Homo sapiens: one gene and its partner. The protein of the gene in region 1 purifies or fractionates together with the protein of each later gene. This does not show direct contact. Each region holds a gene or a part of one and is shown on either strand. Other genes may lie near its edges.

Evidence for each region.
Region 2: the proteins of GTF2IRD2 (region 1) and UBE2Z purify together in Homo sapiens (affinity purification with mass spectrometry; one large-scale study listed by BioGRID and IntAct). This does not show direct contact.

What each region holds. Positions count from the first base shown.
Region 1 is NC_000007.14:74,841,395-74,845,418, reverse strand, and holds part of GTF2IRD2 (general transcription factor II-I repeat domain-containing protein 2A), read left to right. Parts: intron 1-4,024.
Region 2 is NC_000017.11:48,911,407-48,914,906, forward strand, and holds part of UBE2Z (ubiquitin-conjugating enzyme E2 Z), read left to right. Parts: intron 1-1,427; coding exon 1,428-1,615; intron 1,616-3,500. UniProt on the Homo sapiens protein: Catalyzes the covalent attachment of ubiquitin to other proteins. Specific substrate for UBA6, not charged with ubiquitin by UBE1. May be involved in apoptosis regulation.

The DNA of each region.
Region 1 (4,024 bases):
CTCAGGAGGCTGAGGTGGGAAGATCATCCGAGCCCAGGGAGGCAGAGGCTGCAGTGAGCTGTGATTGCACCACTGCATTCCAGCCTGGGTGACGGAGTGAGACCCTGCCTCAAAAAAATGATAATAATTATTATGAAACACTTGTTTTTTAAATGATTACTGGTAGCATAGTTGACGCCAACTGATAGTATCTTTTTTTGAATTCCACGTGGTATCATCCTGCCTATTATTTTATTCTTCGGTTTTTTCAATTTTTTTATTTCTATTTTTGTTTGTGTTTTTATTTTTATTTTCTTTTTTGTAAAAAAGCAGACTTTTGACATCAGAGCTTGTTTAGGGATTATTGTGGTATAATATTCTGGGGATGACAGAACTGTTTTATACCTTAATTTTACCTATGTAACTTTATATATGTCAGAATTCACAGGGGCCAGGCAGGTGACTGACACCTGTAATCCCAACACTTTGGGAGGCCAAGGTGGCAGATCACCTGAGGTCAGGAGTTTGAGACCAGCCTGGGCAACATGGTGAAACCTCCTATTAAAAAAAAAAAAATGCAGAAAATGAGCTGGGCATGATGGCACGTGCCTGTGGTCCCAGCTACTCAGGAGGCTGAGGCACGAGGATTGCTTGAGCCCGGGATGGGGAAGTTGCAGTGAGCTGAGAGTGCACCACTGCACTCCAGCCTGGGTGACAGAGTGAGACCTTGTCTCAAAAAAGAAAAAAAAAAAAATCGGCCAGGCACGGTGGCTAACGCCTGTGATCCCAGCACTTTGGGAGGCTGAGGCGGGTGGATCAGGAGGTCAAGAGATCGAGACCAGCCTGGCCAACATGGCAAAATCCCATCTCTACTAAAAATACAAAAATTAGTTGGGCGTGGTGGCGGGCGCCTGTAGTCCCAACTACTCAGGAGGCTGAGGCAGGATAGTCGCTTGACCAGGGAGGTGGAGATTGTAGTGAGCTGAGATCACGCCATTGCACTCCAGCCTGGGCAACAGAGCGAGACTCCGTCTCAAAATAAATAAATAAATAAATAAATAAATAAATAAATAAATAAAAAAAACATAATCCTCATCTAGTCTAGTTTACATCAGGTAAAAGAATTTTCGGCCAGGCGTGGTAGATCATGCCTGTAAACCCAGCACTTTGGGAGGCTGAGGCAGGTGGATCACCTGAGGTCAGGGGTTCAAGACCAGCCTGACCAATATGGGGAAACCTCGTCTCTACTAAAAGTACAAAAATTCGCTGGGCATGCCAGGAGTGGTGGCTCACGCCTGTAATCCCAGCACTTTGGGTGACCAAGGCGGGTGGATCACAAGGTCAGGATATTAAGACCATCCTGGCTAACACGGTGAAACCCTGTCTCTACTAAAAATACAAAGAATTAGCTGGGCATGGTGGCACGGGCCTGTAGTCCCAGCTACTCAGGAGGCTGAGGCAGCAGAATCGCTTGAACCCGGGAGGCAGAGGTTGCAGTGAGCCAAGATCAAGCCACTGCACTCCAGCCTGGGCAGCAAGAGCAAAACTCTGTCTCAAAAAAAAAAAAAGAAGAATTTTTATTTAAAACTTTTTTTTTTATTTCACAGGAAATGGATTGCATGATTGTTTTGACCATTTTTCTTCATGCTAAATAAAGTATGCAGACTTAAGCATTGAGTTAAGAGATCGGTGTTTTGATTGCCTTTTGGTCGGCGTCAGGGAGAGACCTCTCTGAGTTTGGAGGTTGTTTTAAGGACGTGGGGTGCCATGATTCTAGTAATTTTGTGTGTGCATTTCACACACAACAACCCATACATAAATATCTTATAATTCATCTTCCAGGCACTTGAGAATGAAGGGAGCATTGTTAATAATTTCACTGGCAGGGTGGGTGTGGACTAGGACTGTCCCACCTGGGACATGTGGGTCACCCATCTTATTTTCCCCTCATGGGGCCTTTCTTCTGTTTGCCTTTCTGCTCCTCCACTGCGGTTGCAGCCTCTGCCATTCCTTAAACCATCTGCACACCCACCAGCAGGCTCCCATGCTCTCTGTGTCCTTTCACGGAAAATAATATTTCCCTTGGAGGGTGTGTAGGTTTTAAATTGGGTGATCGTAAAAGCATCGGCGCATAGAGTGTAGTTCAGTACATGTTAATTTTCTTTTTTTCCATCCAACCTCTCTTTGATTTTATTTGATTTTTAAAAATCTCTTTAGCTGGGCGCGGTGGCTCACGCCTGTCACCCACCACTTTGGGAGGCCAAGGAGGCCAGATCACTTGAGGTCAGGAGTTTGAGACTGGCCTGGCCAACGTGATGAAACCCTGTGTCTACTAAAAATACAAAAATTAGCCAGGCATGTTGACCCAAGCCTGTAATCTCAGCTACTTGGGAGGCTGAGGCAGGAGAATTGCTTGAACCCGGGAGGCGGAGGTTGCAGTGAGCTGAGATCGTGCCACTGCATTCCAGCCTGGGCCACAGAGTGAGACTCCGTCTCAAAAACAAATAAATAAATATGATAAAAACTGTTTTATTGAGATACAATTCATATACTTATACAGTTCACCCATTTGAAGTGTACAGTTCAGGCTGTACACGGAGGCTCATGCCTGTAATCCCAACACTCTGGGAGGCTGAGGTGGAAGGATCGTTTGAGCCCAGGAGTTTGAGACCAGCGTGGGCAACATAGTGAGACCTCTTTACAAAAATAGAAAATTAGCTGAGTGTCGTGGCACATGCCTGTCATCTTAGCTACTCTGGAGGCTGAGGCAGGAGCATTGCTTGAGCCCAGGAGGTCAAGGCTACAGTGATTGCACCACTGTACTCCAACTATGATCATGGCACTGCACGTCAGCCTGGGTGACAGAATGAGACCCTGTCAGAAAAAATAAATAAAAATTTAAAAAATAGGGGTGGGCATAGTGCCTCACACCTATAATCCCAGCACTTTGGGAGGCCAAGGAGGGTGGATCACCTGAGGTCAGGAGTTCAAGACCAGCCTGGACAACATGGCAAAACCCCATCTCTACTACAAATACAAAAAATTAGCTGGGCATGGTGGTGCACGCCTGTAATCCTAGCTACTCAGGAGGCTGAGGCAGGAGAATCGCTTGAACCCAGAAGGCAGAGGTTGCAGTGAACTGTGATTGTGCCACTGCACTCCAGCCTGGGAGACAGAGCAAGACCCCATCTCAAAAAAAAAAAAAAAAGAAAATTAAAAAAAATAAAGTGTACTGTTCAGTGGTTTCTTGAAATAGATTCACAGAGTTGTACAACTATCATCACAGTCAATTTTTGTTTTGTTTTGTTTTTTTTGTGAGACGGAGTCTCACTCTGTTGCCCAGGCTGGAGTGCAGTGGTGGGATCTCGGCTCACTGCAACCTCCGCCTCCCGGGTTCAAGAGATTCTCCTGCCTCAGCCTCCCGAGTAGCTGGGACTACAGGCGTGCGCCACCATGCCCGGCTAATTTTTGTATTTTTAGTAGAGACAAAGTTTCACCAAGTTGGCCAGGATGGTCTCGATCTCTTGACCTCGTGATCCGTCCGCCTCGGCCTCCCAAAGTGCTGGGATTACAGGCGTGAGCCACTGTGCCCGGCCATCACAGTCAATTTTTGAACATTTTCATCACTCTGAAACCTTTTACCCTTTAGCTATCAACCTGAAATAACCACTAATCTATTTTCAGTTCCTATAGATTTCCCTATTCTAGAAATTTAATATGAATGGAATTACATAATATGTGACTCCTTTGGATTTTAAGTTGAGGGGATTCATAAAAGGTCAGAAGTGAAACATTCATAGGAAGTAGTTGATTGAGCCAGGTGTAGTGGCTTGCAGCTGTAATCCCAGTGTGGATGAGGGGGAAGGATGGCTTGAGTCCAGGAGTTGGAGGCTGCAGGGAGCCATGATCAAGCCACTGCACTCCAGCCTGGGTGACATTGTGAGACTCTGACTCTTAGAAATAAAAAAGCTGACCAGGCTCAGTGGCTCATGGCTGTAATCACAGGGCTTCGGGAGGCCAAGGCAGGTAGATCACTTGAGGTCGG
Region 2 (3,500 bases), on another chromosome or scaffold:
CCTCCTCTCAGAGAGAAAGCTTAATACATAATGTCACATTTCTCTGGCATAGATACCTAGGTTTCTCTGTCACTGAATGCTCTACCCACAGAAGTGCAGTTGCACTTAAACTGATGTTAGAAAGAAATCATATTTCCTAAACCTAATGCTGTTTAAGTGAAACACATAGTTTTCTTACAGTAAATTTCTTACAGTAAAAATTCAGATTTTGTATTGTTGGTGTATCTTTTTTTGTTGTTTTGAATAGATTTCCCTTCATATTTTTTTTTTATGTAGTTAGAAATGTTTTTCCTAGGACATCTCGTCCTCAGTCAAGTACCAGTGTTAATAGCCTAGTACCTGGGGTCCCAGAGTTGATGCCATGTTGAGACCAGTTGAGTTTACTATTCCAAATGACTGAGAGCCAGAATATGACGTAGGGTCTTGCCAGGAGGGCAAGGTGGGAACTATAGACTTAGGCATTGGATTGCCACGTCCCTTTCCTTTTGCTGTTCAAATGCTTAGCAGACCTAAATGCCTAGGAGCCTTTGTGGAAGAAGAAATATAACTGAGTCAGTTCAGGTTTTCCTCCCTTCAGGGGGGGAAATCCTGTTGAAGAATTATGGCTTGAGGGGGAAGAGAATTTAGTGTCGTTTTCAGGACGGCTGATTTTTTTTTTTTTTTTTTTTTTAAACAGTATTGGGGAAAGTTCTGGGACTGGTCTAATGGCTCTGAGTGGACCCTGAGTCTTCCCCATTTTCAGTCATGATGTGCTGCCTGAGCCACATCCTCCACAATAGGTTTGATCCTCTGCAGAGGAAGCAAGCAGATACCCTAGGCATCCATCACACCCCCTAACCCTGCTGTGTTACTGGCACTGGGCTGTGGCCTCCAATCCCTTTCTTCGTCTCCTTTCATCATACTTTCCCTTCGTGCCACATAAATGTAGGGTGGGGTTGCATCATATGCATGTTTGGCCTGGGCAAATCCAAACATATATTCAGTCAAAATCTGTGTCGATTTCTCAAAATTAAAAACGCTAGGGTTATATTTTATAGATAAGCATATTATATTTTTCCACAGTGGTGTTTTATCCATTATATGTAACACTGATCAGGGAGGTCTGCACAAAAAAAAAAAATGCTTTAAGAGAGTTTTAGGGGATACTCAAGAGTGATTTTGACTAGATTCAGTTTTCGCCTTGGGCTCTAACTTTAGAAGTAACCCCTGAGTAAGATGTCATTCCACTGTAATGAGATTTCTTAAAATTCCAAACCTACGTATTAGTATGAGTGAATACAGGATGTTCCTTCTGCATGGTGAGGATATAGAACATGTGTACCAGATTATGGACTCTGCTTCTGGTGTGGGTAGTAGGTGGAGGGTAGCCAGGAGGGCTTGGGGTGGGTCATCACCTCACAATTTTGAGATGGGGTTTTATTTTGCAGATTCATGCATTGATCACAGGCCCATTTGACACTCCTTATGAAGGGGGTTTCTTCCTGTTCGTGTTTCGGTGTCCGCCCGACTATCCCATCCACCCACCTCGGGTCAAACTGATGACAACGGGCAATAACACAGTGAGGTTTAACCCCAACTTCTACCGCAATGGGAAAGTCTGCTTGAGTATTCTAGGGTAAGAGGAGACTTTTAAGTAGCCAAGTCGGTTGTTAGCAGATAATTACTCTAGGTCAGCCTTTATCAACCGGAGTCCCTCATCTGAACTACAGAACACAGAAAATGATTGAGTGACTCTTCTCAAATCTCCTCAGGATGGTATGTGACTAGTATCATTCTAGATGCAGAGGGGAGAAGTTAATTTATTACAGTGGTAACCTTTGAGAAGTGGTTCTCTTAAGAGTGTGGCCCTGAGCATCTGGGAACTTGTAGCCGAGCAGTTTCTGGGGCCCTATCTTAGACCTACAAAAGAAACTCTGGGGTTGGGGCCAAAAATCTGGTTTTTTTGGTTGTTGTTTTTTGTTTGTTTTGAGACGGAGTCTTGCTCTGTCGCCAGGCTGGAGTGCAGTGGCACGATCTTGGCTCACTGCAACCTCTGCCTCCCAGATTCAAGCGATTCTCCTGCCTCAGTCTCCCAAGTAGCTGGGGCTACAGGCGTGCACCACCACACCTAGCTAATTTTTGTATCTTTAGTAGAGACGGAGTTTCACCATGTTGGCCAGGATGGTCTCGATCTCTTGACCTCATCATCCACTCACCTTGGCCTCCCAAAGTGCTGGGATTAGAGGCATGAGCCACCGTGCCCGGCCCAGAAATCTGTTTTTTACAAGCTCTCCAGATGATTGTGGTGCATACTGCAGTTTCAGAACCACTCTCTTGGGGTGTTAAGGCCTTATTTTCTCTCCTGAACAGGTTGAGAAAGGCTGCAGGTCTGTGCCATTCAAGATTTGGGGTGTCTTAATTTGAGTCTTGCAATAAGTTGCTTTGAAGGCAGTGGCGGTGGTGGTGGTGGTGATCATTATGGTTTCATTTTTGTTTTGTTTTGTTTGTTTTTGTTTTGTTTTGTTTTGTTGGTAGAGGCAGGTATCTCACTATGTTGCCCAGGCTGGTCTTGAATTCTTGTCCTCAAGCAGTCGTCCTCTTGTGGCTCCCAAAGCACTGGGGTTACAGGCATGAGCCTCCATGCCTGACCTGATTATAATATTTTAATAATGACAAATGTCTGAGATTGGAAATCACATTAGATATGAAATGAGTTTCTAGTGCATCTTCTTTCTGGATGCTTCTGAGGTTTTGCTTCATAGAGTTCCCATTTTAGTTGCCTTTGGGGGCTGAAAACTCAGTGTGGACATCTTCTCGCATATTTTGGATTGGTGTTTTTATAGTGGTCTGAACTTCTCTGGGACAGAGAACACGTGCAGGTTGAAGTTGAGAAAGTACCCCCAAACTGATTATTCTGTTTTCCTGCTATCCAACATGTTTCCAGGTTTGTGTGAGGGAAGAGCAGCATTTGAAATAAACTTAGAGACATGATTCATTTTTCTAGGACTTGCTCAGACCCAGGGATATGTTCTGCTGTGATTTTGGCAGTGAAGAAGTCTTTTAAAGGAGGTTGTCCTTAAAGAAGTACTTCATCTCGTTAGGGTACTTAATTAATTGTCTTTGCTGGTAGGCTAAAACCCATGATGATAAAGAAATTTAGTCGTTGCTTCTGTATGAAATTTGTTCGCGAAAGCGTGTCTCAAAGTAGGCTCTCCCTCATTGGGTCAATATAAAACTCTTTTGAGATACCAGCCACAGGACAGTGGGGTAAAAGTAGTAGAAGTGTGTTAGGTAGAAAAGGAGAAGCTGCCCTGAAATTGAAAATTTGCCATAAAGAATCACAGAGTAGAAAATTTCAGCCGGGTGCGGTGGCTCACACCTGTAATCCCAGCACTTTGGGAGGCCGAGGCGGGTGGATCACCTGAGGTCAGGAGTTCGAGACCAGCCTAGCCTGGCGAAACCCCGTCTCTACTAAAAATACAAAAATTAGCCAGGCATGGTGGCGCATGCCTCTAGTCCCA